Homo sapiens: one gene and its partners. The protein of the gene in region 1 interacts with the protein of each later gene in a pairwise test. Each region holds a gene or a part of one and is shown in the gene's direction. Other genes may lie near its edges.

Region 1 (5,570 bases):
TTTTTAAGGGTTTTAAAAACAACAAAGAAGACCATATGACAGAGATCATACAGCCGTAATGTATGTATGATCCTCCTCTCTGACCCTTCACAGAAGTACCTTCCTGACTCCTGTCTGTGTTGTTGCCAGAGCCTTCTTCATCCTTCCTTGGGTCACTTCTCCACACAGCCAGAAGAGGGCAACGGTCTCCCAAGTCAGGGTCTTGGCAGGGGTGGAGGATGGGGGACAGCGAGTCCCAGGACATCTCTGTCAGGGCTGAAGACTTCTGTTCAGACCTCACCTGTCCCAGCAGCCCCCATTCCTCATTGCTCCTGGGAGCCCAGCAGCATGTAGATGCCACATTTCCCAGACACCCTCTGGAGCCAGGGCTGGGGCTTCTGACATGGAGAGCTGAAGCTCATGGGGGACATTGGGGAATCCCCTGCAGCCCATGTGGAGTGTATAACAGCAGGCCTGCCAAAGGGCAGCAGGGTGGTAAAGAAAGGCACCCACATCTGTGTGCTGGCACGTAGGGCAGCTCTGTGGGAGAGGAGAGGCCTGATCCCAGACTCCAGGAAGTAGGGAGCTGCAAGAGGGTGTTCTGGCTGAAAGTGGCACAGCACGATGTGTCTGCACCACAGGTGTCCAGTGACCCAACATGAAGTGTCACCAAGAGACACGTGGGTGCAGTGGGTAGAGGGGCAAGTCCCAGGAGGGTCATGGTGAGAGCTGGGCCGGTTTGGATCTTTGTTGACACCACAGCTCCTTGGGAACAGACAATTCCAGACTGGAGGTGGAAATGGAATGCTGTTATGGCAGATTCTGGAAGTCCCAGACAGGGAGAGGCAGGGAGGGAGCAGAGTGGACGCCGCAAGGTGGGAGGGGCATTGGAGGGGCATCCTTCACACCCACTCAGCACTACCGACTACAGCTAGACCAGAGGTCTTCCACTTTGGGGGATGCAGTCCTGTTTCAGGGAGTGATCCAGGCTGTGGGTGACAGCCAGGGTGGGGGCAAGGAAAGTAGGTGGGGTGCTGGCATTTATGATCAGGGAAGGGCTCTCCAGCAAGGCCTGTGCAAGGGAAGTGGGTAGCACGAGGGCCATGTGGAGAGTGCTCTGGGCAAGGCAGACCCAAAGGTGGACACATCTGCCCTGCTCAGAGTATAGCAGGAGCAGAGGTAGAGGTGGGGTCTAGGAGGGCCAGGAGGCACTGAGAGGATGTTTGAGTGCATGACAGTGCTGGGTCTGATGTCACCAGGCTGTGGGCAGGAGGGGAGGTTGGGGGCCAGGGAAGCTGCTCAGCATCCAGGTGGCAGTGTGGCCTGGGATGTCAGTTTGAATGAGAGACTCGTGACATCTTCATTTGAGTAAGGGACACAGGGACATGAGGGTTTCTTTGTTCTGCAGGTGTGAAAAGGGGAGAGGGAGATGCTGAAGCCTTTTCTGGCAGACACGGAGCTTTGTGTGCATTTCTGTCTGCGGAAAGATGACGCACATTGTTACGAGGCCAGAAGTCATCCGCAAACACCAGTCAGAATTGTGGGTTTTCAGAGGTACAGGTGGCTTTGACAGGACACAGCAGTCTCTAAAGGGTCCTCTGTTGAACAGGATGGAATCTGATGTTCCACACAGGTCCCTGCCGCACAGGAGTGGTTGAATGATGCCTCCATGCAACTCAACTTGCCAGGCCCTGAGAGCCAGCTGGGTTTCTTCTCTGTGTACAACGGGGTCTCTCTCCACACTAGTGACTCCTAAGACCAAGCTCAGTGCCATTAGCATGCACTGACAGAACTGGAGATAGGCTGGTAAGGCTCACACCTGGCAGTGTGGACAGAAAAAAGGGTGAAATATGTAACAGTGTAAGGAGTGGTGTGAGACGTTTTTCTGGTACAGGTGGGAGAAGTGAGAAGCACCTGGATTTGGGCTGCACTCTGAGGTAGAGCTGACAGGACTTGCCAGTGGTTTGGTGTGGGTGTCGAGGAAGAGGGGAGTCAAGGGACAGCCAGGATTTTGGCCTGAGCCAGAAGGTAGACCGCAGTAACGTTTGCTGAGATGTGGAGTCCCAGGGAGGGTGGGTCCGTGGTCATCAAGAGCTCTCACTCATCTGCAGCCCCATGCAGCCTAATCACCCAGTGCTCCTCCCACCCCTCCCTGATGCCCTCTGATCTGGACTGCCACCCCAGAGGATCCCCTGCTCCCCTTGCCTCCTCCACAGTTAGTGGGTGCAACTGTGACTGTCTATGTTCCTGCTCCTGCTGCAGCACTGCCTTCCAAGTGATATTCTATTTATTGTTTCAGATTGTGACACCAGGACTGAAGACAAGGAGTTTCTTCACAAGGAAGACATTCATGAAGATTTGGAATCACAGGCAGAAATATCAGAAAACTATGCTGGTGATGTTTCCCAGGTACCCGAGCTTGGAGATCTGTGTGATGATGTATCAGAAAGAGACTGGGGAGTCCCCGAAGGCAGGAGGCTGCCACAGTCCCTCTCCCAGGAGGGGGACTTCACACCAGCTGCCATGGGGCTCCTTAGGGGCCCCTTAGGGGAGAAAGATCTGGACTGTAATGGTTTTGACAGTCGCTTCAGTCTGAGCCCAAACCTGATGGCATGTCAGGAAATCCCTACAGAAGAGAGGCCACATCCATATGACATGGGTGGCCAGAGTTTCCAGCACAGTGTGGACCTAACTGGTCATGAGGGGGTTCCCACAGCTGAAAGTCCACTCATATGTAATGAGTGTGGGAAAACCTTCCAAGGAAATCCTGACCTTATTCAGCGTCAAATAGTCCACACTGGGGAGGCTTCCTTTATGTGTGATGATTGTGGGAAAACCTTCAGCCAGAACTCAGTTCTTAAAAACCGTCATCGATCTCATATGAGTGAGAAAGCTTACCAGTGCAGCGAATGTGGGAAAGCCTTCCGAGGGCACTCAGACTTTTCTAGGCATCAGAGTCACCACAGCAGTGAGAGGCCTTATATGTGTAATGAATGTGGAAAAGCCTTCAGCCAGAACTCGAGCCTTAAAAAGCACCAAAAGTCTCACATGAGTGAGAAGCCCTATGAATGCAATGAATGTGGGAAGGCTTTTAGGCGGAGCTCAAACCTCATCCAACATCAAAGAATCCATTCTGGGGAGAAACCGTATGTGTGCAGTGAGTGTGGGAAGGCCTTCAGGCGAAGCTCAAACCTCATCAAACACCACAGGACTCACACAGGAGAGAAGCCTTTTGAGTGTGGCGAGTGTGGGAAAGCCTTCAGCCAGAGTGCACACCTGAGGAAGCACCAGAGGGTCCACACTGGAGAGAAGCCTTATGAGTGTAATGATTGTGGCAAGCCCTTCAGTCGGGTCTCCAACCTCATTAAGCACCACAGGGTTCACACTGGAGAGAAGCCCTATAAGTGCAGTGACTGTGGGAAAGCATTTAGTCAGAGCTCCAGCCTTATTCAGCATCGGAGAATTCACACTGGAGAAAAGCCTCACGTGTGTAATGTATGTGGAAAAGCCTTTAGTTATAGCTCAGTGCTCCGAAAGCACCAGATCATCCACACGGGAGAGAAGCCGTACAGATGCAGTGTCTGTGGGAAGGCCTTCAGCCACAGCTCAGCCCTCATTCAGCACCAGGGCGTGCACACAGGCGACAAGCCCTACGCCTGCCACGAGTGTGGGAAGACCTTTGGTCGCAGCTCCAACCTCATCCTTCACCAGCGAGTCCACACTGGAGAGAAGCCCTATGAATGTACTGAATGTGGAAAAACCTTCAGCCAGAGCTCAACCCTCATTCAGCATCAGAGGATTCATAATGGGCTGAAGCCCCATGAATGTAACCAGTGTGGTAAAGCCTTCAACCGAAGCTCAAATCTCATTCACCACCAGAAAGTTCATACTGGGGAAAAACCCTACACCTGTGTTGAATGTGGTAAGGGCTTCAGCCAGAGCTCACACCTCATTCAGCATCAGATAATCCACACGGGCGAGCGCCCCTACAAATGCAGTGAGTGTGGGAAAGCCTTCAGTCAGCGTTCGGTCCTCATCCAGCACCAGAGGATTCACACTGGGGTGAAGCCCTATGACTGTGCTGCTTGTGGGAAAGCCTTCAGCCAGCGATCAAAGTTGATCAAACACCAGTTGATTCACACCAGGGAATAGGCTGTTGGGCTGGCAGGAGTGAAACCGAGCATAGTTTCCTCTCCAACTCCTCTTTGGCCATTGTCTCAGCCTCTGCCACTTCCCAGACCGAAAGCCTGGACTCAGCTCACTGCCTACATCCAGTGGCCACATAGCCTGGGACCCTCCTTTGAAACATCCTTTACAGGCTCCCTTCTCACTGCCACTGCTCTTGCCTCTTGTGATGTCTTGGGTTTGGGCTTGTTTTTACAGCTTGTGAACGGACTGCACGTTTGTTACAAGGGAGAAGATTATGGAGGCTGCATATTCATGAATAGAGTTTATTATTATAATGAAAAGTTACCAAAAAAGTAAAGTGACGTTTGGTTTGAGATAACCATAGTAGTTTGTTTGATTGGTAATGAGTTGTGTGGCGTGAATTCTTTGTCACTGGCTGTAATTGATATTTTAGGTAAGTCGAGAGTTTTTCAGGTCCAGTTGCTCTGTCATCTTCCCCAGAAGTGGTACCTACTCATCACCACCAATTCCCTGCCCTTCTTTGTCCCTCCTGTTCCAGAATTTGAACCCAAGGCTCCCCCGCCACCCTACTTTTCTTTATACAGATCTGCAATCTGAGGTCAGCTTTCTCCTCTCACTGGTCTGCTGTGACTTAGGCCCCCATATCCTGTTCTGGGCTGCTGCACAGTTCCACATGGCTGTTCCAGCTTCTAGTTTCTGGGCCACAGAGGAAGCTCTCTCCATGGACCTCATTTTCATGCCCATGAGCTTCCAGGCTGTTTTTTCCACCTAGTAAGTGCCCTGCCTTGAGGGCCTAGCTCACTTACCCCCATCCTTAGTTCTCAGAGCTGTGCTCCTGTTCCCTGAGCAAGGAGAAAGCCCAGATGCTGAGAGGCCCCTCCCTGCTGGCCAGCAGGTCTGGGGGTGTCAGGACACAGTTTCATGGAAAACCTAGCCCTGACCTGTTTTAGATAAAAGTTTTGTTGGAACACAGCTATGCCCATTTGTTTACAGATAGCTGTGGCAGCTTTTGTACCACAGAATTGAGCAGTTGTGATAGATCCCATATGGTGCACAAAGCCAAAGTATTTACTTCTGGTCCTTGATAGGAAAGTTTGCTGACCCTGCCTTAGGATGCTCCCTGTGACCTAAGTTGCCTCTTGGGACTCAAGAGTTCTTGCAGGAGTTAAAGTGTGTTTTGTGACCAAGGGACTATTCTGTACTGTGGAGTGGTTGGCTGTGTGCAGGTGGGTGATTGCTGCAGAGTTCCCACAGCCACAGAGCATCCATCCTCTTTACCACTCCCCAACACACAGTACGCCCTCTGGAGAGATGCAAGACCTAAGTGTTGACTGAGTTCTTACTGCAGTTAAGAGTTTTGTGAAGATTGAATAAAATGGTATGTGTAAGTGTTTTATTTTATTTTTTTGAGACGGAGTTTCGCTATGTCACCCAGGCTGGAG
Region 2 (8,547 bases), on another chromosome or scaffold:
TTTTCCCTCGCATATGCCTGTGGACTGTCTTGCGCATTCCTCTTCAGAGAGAATGTGGCTTGAGGCCACTAGCTCAAAGTCTTTTTCAGTCATACACTCTTGGGAATCTGATGGTGGCTGTAGACCCTTTCCCTGCTAAAAGAGTATCATTCTGTGTATGACACTGGGAAGGTCAGGGATCCCGCCTGCTTCCAGGCATGAGGTCTCTTGAGGGTTTTGTGTTGGCTGATCCATGAGGCTTCTTGTGTTGAGATGAGATTAGATGGTTAGATGAGATTAGATGTTTAGAAGCAGGAGCAGGACCAGGGAAGCATCATCAAAGGGCCCAGACCTGAGTTTTCTGAAGGCCTGAGCCAGGGAGTGGGAATGATGAGGGTCTCTAGCAGGTGAGATTGCAGAGGGAGAACCAAAGGGTGTAATTATCTATGGGGGTGTGGGGGGTTCTTGCCAAGGCAGAGAGAGTCTGTGTTCAGATTTACATGACCAAGTGTGTGAACACACCGAAGCCCAAAATACCCTGGAGGTATTTTGGGACCAGATTGAGGCCAAAGATCAGCATTTCTGAGTTAGATGTTGCTGGGGAAAGTAGGGTTCCTTGGGCTGATACTTTTGGGCAGTGCTATGCCATGTACATCTGTGTGGCAGTTCATAGGCATGATAGTATCTCGTTAAAGGCTCCAAGAGGAGCTGCAGCAAAGACTCCTGTTAAACATCCTGCAGCCTCATGTTTTCCACCCTGTTGGAGCCCTGAATGTTTCTGTCGGAGGAGAAGTATTGCTGTGGAATTGTTGAGGCTTAGCTGCTTTGGCCAGGGGTTAGGATTGAGGTGAAGATTACAAAGCAGGGAACCTAAGGAAATTGCGAAAGGAAAAAGAATCCAAACAGCAAGGGACAGGGCTGGCAGTTGGAGGGTGTCAGGGAGGAAATTTGGATATGTAGAGGATGCAGCATCACCCCCAAGGGGTGAAAAATCCTGGCTAGTAGGATGATTTGTAGCCTTTCAAAGATCAACCCTACCAGACAAAATCTTGTTCCTTAGTATTTGATTTCTCTCATGGGGTTCTTGGGTCTCAGTGTGTGTGCAGGATCAGTGCTCCGGAGCCGGCCAGTAGATGGCTGTGAACGGAGGACTTTCTCTTTATCGGTTGCTCCATCTCCAAGTCATGTTGCAACAGGTGGCCAGCGTGTGCCTATTGGCTGCCATTAGCTGCCTTCCTGTGGTGATCACAAAGCCAAGCATTAATGGTCTTCCCTTTTTAGAGAGTGCTTCTGAGTCATGTTTTCCCTTGTCTGCTTCAGTGTGAACAGGGTCTGGTGGGTGTGACTAGCATTAGCTATGTTGTATAATTTTTGCCACGCTTTGAGCAGGGTTTGTGTTTTCCTTGTTCAGGCTGTGAGAAGACATTTATCACAGTGAGTGCCCTGTTTTCCCATAACCGAGCCCACTTCAGGGAACAAGAGCTCTTTTCCTGCTCCTTTCCTGGGTGCAGCAAGCAGTATGATAAAGCCTGTCGGCTGAAAATTCACCTGCGGAGCCATACAGGTAATGAGCTAGGGAACGCACAGCATTTGGACCCAAGATTTGTCTTCATCGTAGCTGTTGGAGTTGTAAATTTTATGCTGTATAATTTTTTCTTTTATAAGGTGAAAGACCATTTATTTGTGACTCTGACAGCTGTGGCTGGACCTTCACCAGCATGTCCAAACTTCTAAGGCACAGAAGGTAATCCTTACATTTTGGTTTGCATTATCAGGTTTGAAAATGAGTGGTTTGTCAGCAGCAGAAACCAATGAATGAAATATCTGTAGACATTTTTTAAGTTGTTAAAAAAGGAGCTCAGTGTTGATGATTTGGAAAATTCAGAAAACTGTAAAAAGAAAATTGCTCAGAATCTCATCACCTGAAGTCAGTTTTTTCTGTGTATACTTTTTTTAAAAAAAGCTAAATTGGCATACTCTGTTCTTAAAAAAAAAACAATTCCAGGTTTTTTTTTTAACTTAACATTGTAGAATAAGCTTTCTTCATGTAATTACAAGTTTTCATGGTGGTAATGACAACCCTGGAGACTGTGTCCAGGTGACACTCAGCACTTTACATGTGTGTCTTCTACCTTCCCAACAACCTCAAAGCTAATGTTCTTATTCTCCCTGTTTTACAGTGAGACTCGGAGAGATTCAGTGGTTTTTCTGTACTTGCACAGCTGGGCTCTGAGGATTTAATATAAAAATGTCACTTAGGAAAAGACACAGTCTTTACAAGTTGGCTTAAGAGAGTCCTTTTGGCATTGCAGCTGATGCTCTGTGCACATTTCTCACGACCGTCTGTCGCTCGGAAAGCTTGTTGATCATTGGGGTTTCTAAACAATAGAAACACCTTCATCAATACATTTGGGACTCCACTGTTCTTAGATTAGCTTATATTAGATTGAAGTAGCATTAATTGTTTGATGTGTGACTCTGGGGTCAGCTTAGTCATTAAAGTAGAATTTTTATGGGGTAGCTAAATTGCAAATCTGCTCACATGGATTAAAGACAGAATTAAGATTTTCCGAAATGTACTGATCATTTTTGTAAATGCAAAGTTTGTGTTTTGGTATGTTTTGTAGAATTTTAAAGAATTATGGTGAGTTGTGTGAGGAATCACAGCTCCTTTATTTTTCTGTCTGGCAGGAAACATGACGATGACCGGAGGTTTACCTGCCCTGTCGAGGGCTGTGGGAAATCATTCACCAGAGCAGAGCATCTGAAAGGCCACAGCATAACCCACCTAGGCACAAAGCCGTTCGAGTGTCCTGTGGAAGGTAGATTTTAAAACATTGCTTTGAGCAGTAAACTAAGTGCAATGCCAACATTTATCCTGTTAAGTTTCCGTTGTTTAAAGGTAAATGTTAGCTGCTTAAAGACTGACTCAATATAAGTTGCAGCATTATGTTTACTTACCTCATTGAGTTAATTGTACTATTTTGGGAGCAGTGACTTGAGAATCAGACGCAGTTTGACTCATGGCCCTGATCCTCATTAGATCTGTGGCTCTAGTTAAGTTACCTGTTTAATTTGGTGGTCGTGAGGATTAGGTGAAATGTGGAAAATGCCTGTTTATCCATCTGGCATGGAGCTCGGACTCAGTAAATGGTAGGTACTTTTGAGATCACGTTTGAATTGTCACTCCAATCATTTTGTAATTGGAGAGCAGTAAAGCTAGACTGACTTTTTCTTTTTTTGTTTAATTTTTGAGACAGTCTTGCTCTGTCACCCAGGCTGGATGCAATGGTGTGATCTTGGCTCATTGCAACCTCTGCCTCCCAGGTTTAAGTGATTCTTATGCCTCAGCCTTCTGAGTAGCTGGGACTACAGGCGTATGCCACCACGCTTGGCTGATTTTTATGCTTTTAGTAGAGACAGGGTTTCACCATGTTGGCCAGGATGGTCTCAAACTCCTGACGTCAAGTGATCCACCCACTTTGGCCTCCCAAAGTGCTGGGATTACAGGTGTGAGCCACCACGCCCAACCTGACTTTTTAAAAGGTATAGTAGAGTGGTTTTTTCCTTTAAAACACTGAAGGCTCAGTTCATTTGCCAGAAATTGGCTGCGTGACCTGTGCGTGACTTGTGCGTGCTGGCCCTACTCTAGTTCTGCAGGTGCACTGGGAGGCAGTGAGCCAGGACACGTCGGGTGGTCATGGATTCAAAGTCTGGCTCTACCGCTCCCTAAAGTGGTGGCCTCAGTCAAGCTGCTTCTCTGGGCCTTGGTTTCCTTACCTGGAAGAGAGAATAATAAAGACCCATTTAAAGCTGAGCCTAGCTCTTAGAACATAATGAACATATATACAAGTGGTGTAACTGAGAAACAGTTCCTCCTTCCGTCAGAGTTTCAGCTGGAGGTGCAGACAGGGGAACAGGTAACATGTAGGGTGCTGCAGGGGCGCAGAGAGTTTCCCCAGACCGGGGTGAGAACGGCCTCGCGGTCAGCTGAAGAAGAGGGGAGAGCACCAGACACGTGCGTGTGGGTGTTGGAGGCGGAGTGGCCTGGGAGAGCCTCTCAGGGCCAGGAGTGGCAGGCTTGAGTGCTTGGGTGAGCGTATGATGTCATCATGTTTGAGTTGTGGCTTAGCCTGGCTTCAGGATTGAAAGCAGCCAGGGGTGTGGGGAGGTGGGATGGCCTGGACGGGGGCCTTAACAGTGGGAAAAGAGAAAGGGGCATCAATAGCAGAGGTGGGAGTTAGAAGTCACAGTATATGGTGATGGATTTGGATTTTAGTTGATGTCAGTGTGTCAGCTGAGTGGATTTGGAGGAAGCAGAGTTTGGTTTGGACATGTTGTGTTTTTGGTACCCTTGTGCGTCTAATGCGCAGAGGGCAGGGGATGTGCCACTGGTGCTGGGGAGAGCAGGCCAGGCAGGGAGCGAAGCAGACAGCACCCGAATCATCATTTAAGCCACAAAAGTGGATGAAATTCTCAAAGAAGAGTATAAATGGAGGAGAGTCAGGGTAGTGTAGTTGATCAAAAGCCTGAATTCTGGAGTCAGACTGCCTGGATTCGAGTCCTAAGTTTGCCACGTAAGTAGGTCTGGGGCCTCGGACAAACACTTGAAGCTCTCTGTGCCTCTTCCTTATCTGTAAAGTGAATAAAACCTCCCAGGGTTGTTGAGAAGGCTGGATTGGTTACTAAGTTTAGCGCATATGGAAAACATCAGTATATATGTCAGTTACTGTCGTTGTTGTGATTGCTGTTAGATTTTCTTAAAAAGGACCTAGGACAGAGCCCTGGGGCTGCCCCAGATTCCGGTGGAGTGGCTGGGACGGGTACTGGCAGGACCAGCAACAGCACAGTGGGGGTGGTGCTGAGGTGAGTGGGGAATGTGTGGAAGTGGGGGTCACCTGGAGTGCTAGGGTGAGCCAGGACCAGGGAACACATGCCTCGGTGCCACCTGCGGGGTTGTCTTGGTGTGCTGATGGATGAGGTTCCGTGGGTCACTCAGGCAGAGTCCTGCTCTGGTGCCCTGAGAGGTGGCCTGAGTGGGAGATGGGGATGGTTTGTGCTGACACTTCTGCCAGAGGTGACTGGGGAAAGGGGAAAGGTGGGAGTTGGCCGTGGAGGATAGGGCATTTGTTTCTGTAGAGCTCTGTTTCTTCCAGCAAGTCTAGGTGTTGTGCTGGGAGAGAAACTGGGCACTCCCCACGTGGTGTATGGGCAGCACGTGGAGATGGAGTTGGAGCTGGTGGGAGGAGCCCAGAACCTCTTCTCAGCTGGACTGAGAGTTGATCATTCTTGGGGTTGGGCAATAGTTGGGGCTGATGACACCATTTTTTCCACTTTGGTAGGTGTTTGAACTGTTCTGTAATAAAAAGTAGAAGGCAAAACTACCTTTTTTTGTAGTAACAGGAGGAGGAGGAAAGGACAAGGCCACAGACCAGAAGTATGTCTGAGGGCAGGTGTTGGGTGGCCTCGTTGCGGCCTCGGGGCTATGTGTGCTGGGGCCTGTGTCTCGTGTTGCCGAGCCTTGTGCTTGCCTGGCCGTCCATGTGAGCGCCTCACTGTCCTCTGAATGCAGCTTTGCAGACAGGTCTGTCAGTGATGGCTGCTTCTGCCTCTCCCTGGTTGCAGCTTGGATTTGTAAAGAATGGAAACAGATCTCAATATACTGGCAGAATTTGGAAAAGCCAGCAGTTAGTACACTTGGAGAAATGATTACATTCCTGGTTGTCGCAGGAAATACAAACCAAAATGAAATATATTTTTTGCCTATGGAATTAGCAAGTACTTTAAAAAATGGAAACCCAGTGCTGGCAAGAGTGTGCAAGGGTCCTGTTGTAGCGTGGCCCTGCCATCAAGAAGGCATTTGACAGAAGATGTGCTCAGAGCCTCTGCTCTGTGACCTGTCTCTAGAAATCCGTGCTCAGGACCCCCAGCTGGGAAAGGGGGTTCCAGGGTACCCTGTGTACCATGGTGAGCAGGGCATGCAGAGGAAACTGCGCGCTTGCAGGGCAGTCCTGGGCCGTCGGACTGTCTCCTTTGTTTCCCAGATGGTTTTTGACGAGCCTGACCTGGAAACGAGTTTGCAGCTGTATTAGAAAATGAAAAATGTAGTTGAAAACTATATTCACAGGCATCCAAGGCCCTTACTCATCTGGCCGTATCCTATCTTCATAGCCTCTTTCCTTAAAATATCCCTCCTCCAGGCGCTGGGCTCTGGCAGTACCACCCCACCGTCTTAAGAAGGTGCCGCGAGTGCGTCGTTGCTCGCACCACTTGCTTAGGCCCGTGCAGAGGCTCTGTAGGCAGGTATGGCTTTATTGGGCCCTCAGCACCCCTGTGAGGTAGGTGTCACTCCCGTTTCACAGAACAGAAAAAGGAGACCCGCAAAAGATAAATAATTTGTCTAAGGCCACACTGCTGGTAAGAGGCTGAACTGGAACCCAGGCTGGGGTGCCTGCACTGCTGCCCTTCATGCCCCCATGCCTTGGCTGGGCAGCTCCTGCGGCAGGAGCACCATCTGCTCTGCTGCAGGGTGGCCCAGTCACCTCGAGGGCTGCATACTCCTGAGACCGCTTTTCTGCCTTCTCGGGAGGTGTGTGGTTTCCTCTGCTGCTTGCATGTTTCAGTGTTGGCACTGACTTCCTTCTGCCCTTTGTTGCAGCAACTGGCTGTTCTATTTGCCCCTACCAGGTCATAGGCCTCTGACCGCCAAGAGCTCCACGTCTCCTTCCTGTGTCCATATGGGGCAGAGCTCCAGCGTAGTAGAAAGCCAGGGCACGGAGGGGAGGTGATTGTAACTTTGAATGTGTCTTGTTTTTCCTCTGATGCCTGTGTGCAGATCAGAGACATAAGTGGACTGGGAGTGTAAGCAAGGAGTTGCCAGCTCTGGGCTCCAGGACACCTGCTCAGTCTCCCTGGGCATCCATTGTCTCAGTGGGAAAGTGAAAGGACTGGCTTTGGTGATCTGTCAAGATAGTTTCCAGCTCTAAATGTCATCCTAGGATTACATTTTTTATGATAATAGCTTAATCGAGATGACTAGAATAAATTGTTTTCAACTGAATATTTAAGCAGTTAATACTTAATTTGACTTAATCTTCCCAACATCTCCATGTAGTGGGTGAAGAAACAGGCACAGAGGTTGCTTAGGCATAGCTGAGGTAGGACTTCAAATCTCCCTACGGGTTTCACTGTATCTCTTGCTTTTTAAAAACAGTTTGCTTTTGACTTGAATTGCTTGTGATGCTACTTCTAGAGATATTTGGTCTCTGTCCTTGCCAGTAGCCAGGGTGCAAAATGCAGGTCTGGTGGTTCTGATCTGATGGGGAAGTGTCACTTGTTCCTGGTTCCTTGGTGATCCTTGGGTTTCACTCTCATTACTCTTTTTGTTCCAGGATGTTGCGCGAGGTTCTCCGCTCGTAGCAGTCTGTACATTCACTCTAAGAAACACGTGCAGGATGTGGGTGCTCCGAAAAGCCGTTGCCCAGTTTCTACCTGCAACAGACTCTTCACCTCCAAGCACAGCATGAAGGCGCACATGGTCAGACAGCACAGCCGGCGCCAAGGTCTGCACTTTCCACGGCCCCCATGGGGAGCTGCTTCCCTGTGAGAAACGGGAACAGTGCCAGTGCCGTCTGTTCCTTCTTCACCTCTTGGAAGGCGTCAGGCAGTGGGGTTGTGGGCGTGGCTGCCAAGCCAAGTGGCCTCTTTTGCACTCTCTGCCACTTTCTTGCCTTTGACCCTCTAATCCCTCCCATGTCTTTTGTTTTTTGAGACAGGGTCCCTCTCTGTCACCCTGACTGGAGTGCAGTGGTGTGATCATGGCTCACTGCAACCTCAGGCTCCTGCTCAAGTGATCCTCCCACCCCAGTCTCCAGAGTAGCTGAGCCCACAGGCATCCACCACCATGCCCAGCTAATTTTTGCATTTTTTATAGAGACAGGGTTTCACTATGTTGCTCAGGCTGGTTTTGAACTGCTGGCCTTAAGCAGTCTGCCCACCTCAGCCTCCCAAAGTGCTGGGATTACAGGCATGAGCCACCATGCCCTGCCCCTCCCATGTCTTTGAAATGCTTTCCTGGAAGAATGTTTCACTTTGTTGACTTTCCCTAGCATATGTCCCCTAAGCCTGTGTCTCTCACTGGGACTTTTGTCCTGAATTCTGAACCTGCCCCTCCTGTGTTTCCGTCTGCCTCAGCTATTCTATCTCCAAGTAACAAAGGCTAGAGCAGAGTTGTGTTTCAGGAGTGGACTGGGAGTAACGAGGGCTGGAGAGGGCAGGGTTAGAGAGGAAAGTGACGGTGGCCTGGTGACCTGTGAGGGGAATGCTGAGTGTGTGAGTGCCTAGTCATTGGGCAGCTTTGCAGCATGGGACTAGGAAACCTACCCCACTAGGCCTTCTCCACAGTCCAGGATACAGAAGTGCCTGGCAGCTGTGGTGGCGGCCCCTCTGGGGAGCACACCCATGTGCCCTATTCTCTGGGCCCTGGTGCGGTTGTCGCTCCTCACCGGGCCTGGCTGATGGCATCCTAGCTGGCCCTAGAGTTACTTCTGCTGCTCAGTCCGTGGAGGC
Region 3 (8,547 bases), on another chromosome or scaffold:
CCCTTTATAAGGACACTCCCACTGTTGTGCTATAATCATCTCTTGGTATCTCCGGACTCTGCCACTCTGAGGTTAGTGCCCTGCCCAGAGCCTGGTACATAAGTACCCAATAACTATTGGTATGCTGGATGAACTTAGAATATGACATGTGTTTATTAAATTGAATTTGTAACTTAGAGATCTATGTGACAGATATTTCTGAGTGAAGTGGAAATTGGGGACAAGGACAGATGTTATCATCTTTTGGTTACAGGTGCAGTTGCATCCCAAGAAACACTACAGCCAGGACACCTGCATTTTTTTTTCTTTTTTTGTTTTTTTTTTTAACAACGTTACTGAAATATAACTCACATACCATAAAATTCACCCATTTAAAGTATACAATTCTTTCTAATATAATTAACTTTTTGAAGTGGTAAAATATATACAACATAGATTTGCCATTTTAACAATTTTTTAGTGTACAATTCAGGGGCATTAAGTACATTCACAATAGTGTGCGATCATTGTCACTATCTATTTGCCAAACTTTTCAATACCTTAAACAGAAACACAGTAACCATTAAGCAATAACTCTGTGCTATGGTTTGGATATTTGTACTTACCAAATCTCATGTTGAAATTTGATCCCCAGTGTGGCAGTATTGGGAAGTGGGGCCTAATGGGAGGTGTTTGGGTCATGGGGGCTGATCCCCAGTGAATACATTAATGCCCTCCCTTGGAGGTGAATGGGTTTTTGCTCTATCAGTTCTCACTAGAGCTGTTTGATAAAAAGAGCTTGTACCTCCCCGCTGTCTCTCCTGCTTTCTCTCTGGTCACATGCTCTCTACACAGCCAGCTCTCCTTTGCCTTCTGCCATGAGTAGAAGCAACTTGAGGCCCTCACCAAATGCAGATGCCCAATCTTGAGCTTCTCCAGACATCAGAATCATGAGCTAAATAAACCTTTTTTCTTTATAAATTATGCAACCTCGGGTATTCCTTTGTAGCAGCATGAAAGAGACTGAGACTTCTCATTGTTCCCTTCCCCCATTCCCAGGGAACATCTAATCTGCTTTCTGCCTCTACGAATGTCCCTTTTCTGGGTATTTTATATAAGTGGAATCATATTTGTCATTTTTTGTCTGGCTATTTTTTTTTTTTTTTTTTTTTTGAGACGGAGTCTCGCTCTGTCACCCAGGCTGGAGTGCAGTGGTGCGATCTCAGCTCACTGCAAGCTCCGCCTCCCGGGTTCACGCCATTCTCCTGCCTCGGCCTCTTGAGTAGCTGGGACTACAGGCGCCCGCCACCACGCCTGGCTAATTTTTTTGTAGTTTTAGTAGAGACGGGGTTTCACCGTGTTAGCCAGGATGGTCTCGAACTCCTGACCTCGTGATCCGCCCGCCTCGGCCTCCCAAAGTGCTGGGATTACAGGCGTGAGTCACCGCGCCCGGCCTTGTCTGGCTATTTCACTTAGCATAAAGTTTTCATAGTTCATCCATGTTATAGCATATGTCAGAATATCACTCCTTATTTTGGCTGAATGAAAAGGAATATCCTTTGTATATATATGCATTTTATCACTTCTCAGCCTTTTGGCCGAGATCAAGTGTATGTACCGCGTTTTGTTTATTCTTATGTTGATGGACAACTTGGGTTGTTTTCATCTTTTGGCTATTGGAAAATGCTACAATGAACAATAGTATACAGGTGTCTGAGTGGCTGATTTCAAAACTTTTTGAGTGCATTCCTAGCAGCAGAATTGCTAGGTCATATAGTAATTCTCTGTTTAGGTTTTGAGGAACTGTCATATCATTTTGTATGACAACTTCACCATTTTACAGTCCCACTAGCAATGTACAAGGATTCCAGTTTTTCCACATCCTTGCCAACACTGATTATTTTCTGTTTATTTTTAGTATAGCCATCCTAGTAGATGTGAAGTTGTATTTCATTGTTGTTTTGATTTGCATTTCTGTCGTGATTAATGTTGTTTAGCATCTTTTCATGTGCTTATTGACCATTTGTATGTCTTCTTTAGAATAATGTCTGTGGAAGTCCTTTGCCTTTTTTTTTTTTTTTTCCTGGAAACAGGCTTTTGCTCTTGTTGCCCAGGCTGGAGTGCAATGGCATGATCTTGGTTTACTGCAGCCTCCGCCTCCTGGGTTCAAGCGATTCTCCTGCCTCAGCCTCCCGAGTAGCTAGCTGGGATTACAGGTGCCTGCCACCACACTCGGCTAATTTTTTGTATTTTTAGTAGAAATGGGGTTTCACCATGTTGGCCAGGCTGGTCTCGGACTCCTGACCTCAGGTGATCCACCCGCCTCAGCCTCCCAAATTGCTGGGATTACAGGTGTGAGCCACTGCGCCCGGCCCCTTTCCCATTTTTAAATTGGGTTGTCTTTTGTGTTTATGAGCAGTAGAGTTCTTTATATATTCAGAATATGAAACCTCTATCAGATATATGATTTCCAAATATTTTCTCTCATCCTTGTCCTTTCACTTTCTAGATAATGTCCTTTGATGCACAAAAATTTTAGTTTGTTTTTGTTTTTTTGAGACAGGGTCTATTCTGTTGCCAAGGGTGGAGTGCAGTGGTGCAATCACAGCTCACCTGCAGCCTTGACCTCTCAGGCTTAAGTGATCCTCCCACTTCAGCCTCCCATGTAGCTGGGACTACAGGCATGCACCACCATGCCTGGCTAGTTTTTAAATTTTTTTGTAGAGATGGGGTCTCCCTATGTTGCCCAGGCTGGTCTTGAACTCCTGGGCTCAAGCAATCCTCCCACCTTGGCCTCCCAAATTGCTGGGAATGCGGGTGTGAGCCACCACACCCAGTCAGTTTTAACTTTTGATGAAGTTCAATTTATCTATTTTTTTCTTTTGCTGCTATCCTTTTGGTGTCCTATCTAAGAATCCATTGCCAAATCCAAGATCATGAGGATTTACCTCTATGTTTTCTTCTAAGAGTTTTGTGGTTTTAGCTCTTACATTTAGATCATTGAGATAACTTTTGTATATGGTGTGAGATAGGTGAGGTTCAACTTAATTCTCTTGTGTATGAAAATCTAGTTTTCCCCATAACATCTGTTGAAGAGACTATTCTTTCCCCACCAGTTAGAGTTGGCACCCTTGTCAAAAATCATTTGGCCACAGATATGTGGATTTATTTCTGAACTCTCAAATTCTTTAAGGACAGAAACATTTTCTTCAGGCTGGGCATGGTGGCTTATGCCTGTAATCCCAGCACTTTGGGTGGCCGAGGTGGGAGGATCACTTGAGTTCAGGAGTTTGAGACCAGCTGGGGCAACATGGTGAAACCTCATCTTCACAAAAAATTACAAAATTAGCTGGGTGTTGTGGCACATGCCTATGGTCCCAGCTACTAAGGAGGCTGAGGTGGGAGGATTGTTTGAGCCCAGGAGGTCGAGGCTGCAGTGAATTGAGATCGCACCACTGCACTCCAGCCTGGATGACTAGAGTGAGACCCTATCTCAAAAAACAAAAAAAAAGAAGGATTTTCTTCAAATTTCTGACAGCGTCTAGTACAGTATCTCTTGATAGCAGGTTCAAATGTTGAATGGAAAAACTGAAGCCTGGACATTTATCATAAGAAAACTTTTGTTGTGAAGGTACATCTCCCCTTGAGAAAACAAATAGAGCATAGCTGCTGCAAATCATACAAAACCATAGAAAAATTTAAAAGACATGTACGACCAGGTGCGGTGACTCATGCCTGTAATCTCAGCACCTTGGGAGGCCAAGTCAGGTGGATTACTTGAGCCCACAAATTCAAGACCAGCCTAGGTAACATGGTGAAACCTCATATCTACCATAAATACAAAAATGAGCCGGGTGTGGTGGTGTGTACCTGTAGTCCCAGCTACTTTGGAGGCTAAGGTGGGAGGATCCTTTGGGCCCAGGAGGTTGAGGCTGCAGTGAGCATTGAATATACCATTGCACTCCAGCCTGGGCAGCAGAACAAGACCCTGTCTCAAAACAAAAACAAAAACATGTACAGATGCTTCTTGACTTGTGATGGGGTTATATCCCAATAAACCCATTGCAAGTTGAAAATATTATAAGTTGAAAATGGATTTAGTACACCTAACCTATCAAACATCATGTCTTAGCCTTGCCTACCTTAAGTGTCCTCAGAATACTTACCTTAGCCCACATTTGGGCAAAATCATCTAACACAAAGCCTATGTTACAATGAAGTCTTGGCTGTCTCCTGTAATTTTTTGTACTGTAGTGAAAGTGAATGGTTGTATGGGTACTCAAAGTATGGTTCCTACCAAACACGTATCTCTTTTGCACCATCTTAAAGTCGGAAAATCATTAAGTCAAACCATTATAAGCCGGGGACCATCTGTATTTGACTTTGGAGTGCTTTCAGAACATTTGGTGGGCATTTAACTATTTGTTGAGTTAATGGATTACATTTGCTCATTCTGATATTACTTTGTATAGACCATCCAGAGAATCACCAGTTACGAAGAAGTAAGTTGACTTTTGTGTGAGGATATTCTCAAAATGAAAAATCAGCTGATGGGCCAAAGTATCTTAAAGTCTGTTTTAAGTAAACATTGATCTCTGTGCTTTAGTGCCTTTTAGAATAATTATTCATGTTTACTTCCTTTCAGACCTCTAACCTAAATCTCTATTTTATTTCATGTTTCCCTAAAGACTCACTAGTGGGCATATTTTTACGTGCATTTGATGAGTTGACTAGTGGTTTTTAATGATTTTCCCTGATATGAATGGCCAAAAAACAGATGTCAGTCTGTTAACCTGTTGCATTTGTGGCTATTAAGAGTGTTTTCTATGTGTGCTCTCCTGCTTTTGAGCCAGAAGAGCAATTTCAATTAAATTTTAAAGTGGTGAAATTGGAATGGAATGTGTAAACTGACAGAGGTCATAAGACTAGTGAAACTGCTGGGATAGGTGATAGAGAAGCCCAAAAGCAGGAGGCAGAGTTGATTTTGGACATTTTTCTTAAACATTAGATGGGATTTGTTGATGGGAATTATTGTTTGTGGTAAGATCATTTGAAAAGTTTTCTTTGCTCTGTGTGCATTATTGGCACCCTCTACAGCTTTGTTAGAAAGTTGGATAGGTAATAAGAACCCAGGACTGGCAGTGGAGATGGCACTTGGAGGGATATGTGTTACTGATTTCCCCGTAATGAAGGAGAGAGGCTAGACCAGGTGATTTTATTGTTTTTTGTTTTCCAGTGCTGAAAATTGTATGACTCTCTCATATTTTGGTTAAGGCTGTTGTTATAAGATACTGGTCACTTTAATCCTTGCATAGAAAGCAGTTTTTAAAGTTAATCTCTGCCTTTTAAAATGGTACAAAATTTGAAGTATTTCAGCCTTTTATAAGCTGAATATACTTTTAATGTTCCAAAGAATAATTTCGTTTGTTTTGTTGTTGTTGTTTTTTGCTTTTGGAACAGGGTCTTGCTCTGTTGGCCAGGTTAGAGTGCAGTGGCATGGTCATGGCTCACTGCAGTCTCAAACCCCTAGAATCGAGCGATCCTCCCTCCTCCCATGTAGCTGGGACTATAGGCACGTGCCACCACACCCAGCTAATTTTTTTTGGTGTTACTCTGTTGACCAGGCTGGTCTCGAGTTCCTGGCTTCAAATGATTCTCCTGTCTCAGCCTCTCAAAGTGCGGGGATTACAGGGATGAGCCACCATGCACACTCCAAGGAGTAATTATAACAGTATTTTATAATTATTAACCATTTATAAAAAGATTTTTTTAGTGTTTTGCTTAAAATAATGGATAGCATGAACAAGAAAATTGAAATATTACTTTGTATTAAAACAACATTTTATTTAATCAGAGAAAAACTGGCAAAGAGAGTAACAAATTTTATATTGATTTGTTACTTGGTTTAAGAAGAAACATCAATTTTGATATATAGTTATATAAGTAGAATTAGAATGCTTCAAATTTGCCAGATAATTGCTTCAGTACTTACTCTTATCTTTGTTTATAATCCTCTCCTGTCATGTACACTTTTAATTATTGGAGAATTAAAAATTGCTATTTTTTAAGTAGTCCTTAAATAATTGTTGAATGCCTGAATGATTGTTCATAGTTTAGAGAAGAAAAAATGTTTTAATGTGATCATGATTTCTAATCTTTCTTATAATTGGTGGTATTGCCTTTTATACTTCTCCATGAAAAGGTATTATAATTAAGATGTTGTATCTTAGTGTGATTTAGTAGTATTTGGAATTCCTTATAATAGAAAACAGAGCAATTGTTTTAGGTTTGAATACCTACATTACTGAACTTTCTAGAGTCTCTGAAAATTGAAGAGCAAAACTTGAATAGCACCCCTAAATACATTCTGATTTACAAAGGATGCCTTATCAAAGTTTATATTATGCTGTTTGGCTTATTTTTTATATTATATGTATGTATAATATGTATATATTATATATAATATGTATATATAATAAATATAATATGTATATAAATATATATATAGTATTTATATGTACTCCAGACTGGGCAACAGAGTGAGACCCTGTCTCAAAACAGATATGTATATCTATATATATCTCTCTCTATCTACCTATCTACCTATCTGTCTATCTATATCTGTCACCCAGGCTGGAGTACATGTAATTATACTATCTTATACTATCTGTCTATCTATAATAGATCTATATATCATATCTATATATATAATATATATATATATGTTTTGAGACAGGGTCTCACTCTGTCACCCAGGCTGGAGTACATATAATTACATTGTGTATATACGTGTGTGTGTATATATATATGTATGTATATAGTATCTACTATATATAATATATAATATATATTATTATTTTGGACATAGATACTATTTATATATAGTATATATCTATATATTATCTATCTATATTATCTAATTAGATATCTAATTAGATCATATAGATATAGATACTATATATACTATATTATATATAGTATATTTAGTATATATAGTGTATATAGTAACTATATATTATATATAGTATATATATAGATACCTGTTTTGAGACAGGGTCTCACTCTGTCATCCAGGCTGGAGTGCGGTGGCATGATCACTGCAGCCACTCACTGCAGCTTCTAACTCCTAGGCTCAAGCGATCCTCCCACCTTAGCCTCCCCCAGTAGCTGGGACTACAGGTGCATGCCACCATGCCTGGCTGGCTTATTATATTGCTATGTATTCTTTTTGTTTTTATTGTTGTAGGATACCCTCTGGTTTCATAGGGGATAATCCTTAAGAGTAGAAAAGTTCACAAATTTGTGTGGTGCTAATTTTATAAAAGAGAGATTTATTTTAGGTACAAATATTTATCTAGTTTTTATTCTAAAATCCTTGGCTTTTCTGGCCCGTTGGATTGCTTTTATGAGTGCTAATTTCTTCTTTAATATCTTTTTGGCTGGGTATGTGGTGGCTCATGCCTGTAATCCCAGCACTTTGGGAGGCCGAGGCAGGTGGATCACTTGAGACCAGGAGTTCGAGACCAGCCTGACCAACATGGCAAAACCCCATCTCTACTAAAAATACAAAAAATTAGCCGGATGTGGTGGCATGCAGTTGTAGTCCCAGCTACTCAAGAGGCTGAGACATGAGAATTGCCTGAACCCAGGAGGCAGAAGTTGCAGTGAGCCAAGATCATGCCACTGCACTCCAGCTTGGGGGACAGAGTGAGGCTTTGTCTCAAAAACAAACAAAAAACTTTTTAATAATTTGTGACTTCTGGCTGTTTCCAGACAGAAAGGGTTAGCAGTCTCCCATTTTTAACCAGGAGAGAGCATTCTTGAGCATCTGTAGGAAACAGGCACTAATTAAGGAAAGGGCTAAACTAGGATAGATCTTGGAAGCAAAAAATAGTTGAATTTAGGATACTTTGGCAGGAGTGAAACTGTTAATCCCAAATCTTCAAATGTGAGGGTTTCCTATGCATGTGAATTTATGTGCACTTCTGATTTTAGTACAGCTTAATTAACACTGCAGCCCAGTTACTGTTTAGTTCATTGCATAGTACAGTACTGGGCTCTAGTTCTGGGTTGGATCCTGCCAGTTACATGAGCAAGGCACATAACTTTTGTGGATTCATCATTGGCACTAGTAAATTAAATGGGCTTAAGTAAGGGGATAAATTAAGTTCACTCTTTGAGAGCAGACCAGCATATCCCTGTCTGCTTCTTGCAAACTCATTAGTTCTTTGAAGTTATCTAAACAGATTTTGAAAGTTATGTTCCACCATAGTGTAGCCTTCTAAAATAAAGATTACATTTTAAATTAGTTGCCACTTTAACATTGATGCTCCCAGAAGATACATTGTGTTTATCCTGGAGTTTGATGTATTCCCTGACTCATAGCCTTGGGGCTTCTTACGCTTCAACTTGAAAAGCATAGGACCCAGAGGATCTCTTAGGTCTCTTGCAGCTCTGATATGCTATAACACTTGCAACAAAGGAGAGTTTGTTCTTTAGTTTTGATAAAGTATACCTTTAAGAAATTATAAATCCATAACAGGGAAAAATATGACTGACTGATTTGCA

Evidence for each region. Proteins that work in one complex are often made in the same cells at the same time.
Region 2: the proteins of ZNF16 (region 1) and ZXDC interact in a two-hybrid assay, tested with the Homo sapiens proteins (one study listed by IntAct).
Region 3: the proteins of ZNF16 (region 1) and FAIM interact in binary tests that used the Homo sapiens proteins (3 or more experiments, as listed by UniProt).

Annotation. Positions count from the first base shown.
Region 1 is NC_000008.11:144,929,299-144,934,868, reverse strand, and holds the end of ZNF16 (zinc finger protein 16), read left to right. Parts: intron 1-2,278; coding exon 2,279-4,131; 3' UTR 4,132-4,511; downstream 4,512-5,570. UniProt on the Homo sapiens protein: Acts as a transcriptional activator. Promotes cell proliferation by facilitating the cell cycle phase transition from the S to G2/M phase.
Region 2 is NC_000003.12:126,465,149-126,473,695, reverse strand, and holds part of ZXDC (zinc finger protein ZXDC), read left to right. Parts: intron 1-1,390; coding exon 1,391-1,543; intron 1,544-1,644; coding exon 1,645-1,723; intron 1,724-2,670; coding exon 2,671-2,801; intron 2,802-7,370; coding exon 7,371-7,541; intron 7,542-8,547. UniProt on the Homo sapiens protein: Cooperates with CIITA to promote transcription of MHC class I and MHC class II genes.
Region 3 is NC_000003.12:138,610,967-138,619,513, forward strand, and holds part of FAIM (fas apoptotic inhibitory molecule 1), read left to right. Parts: coding exon of another isoform or gene 1-71; intron 72-8,547. UniProt on the Homo sapiens protein: Plays a role as an inducible effector molecule that mediates Fas resistance produced by surface Ig engagement in B cells.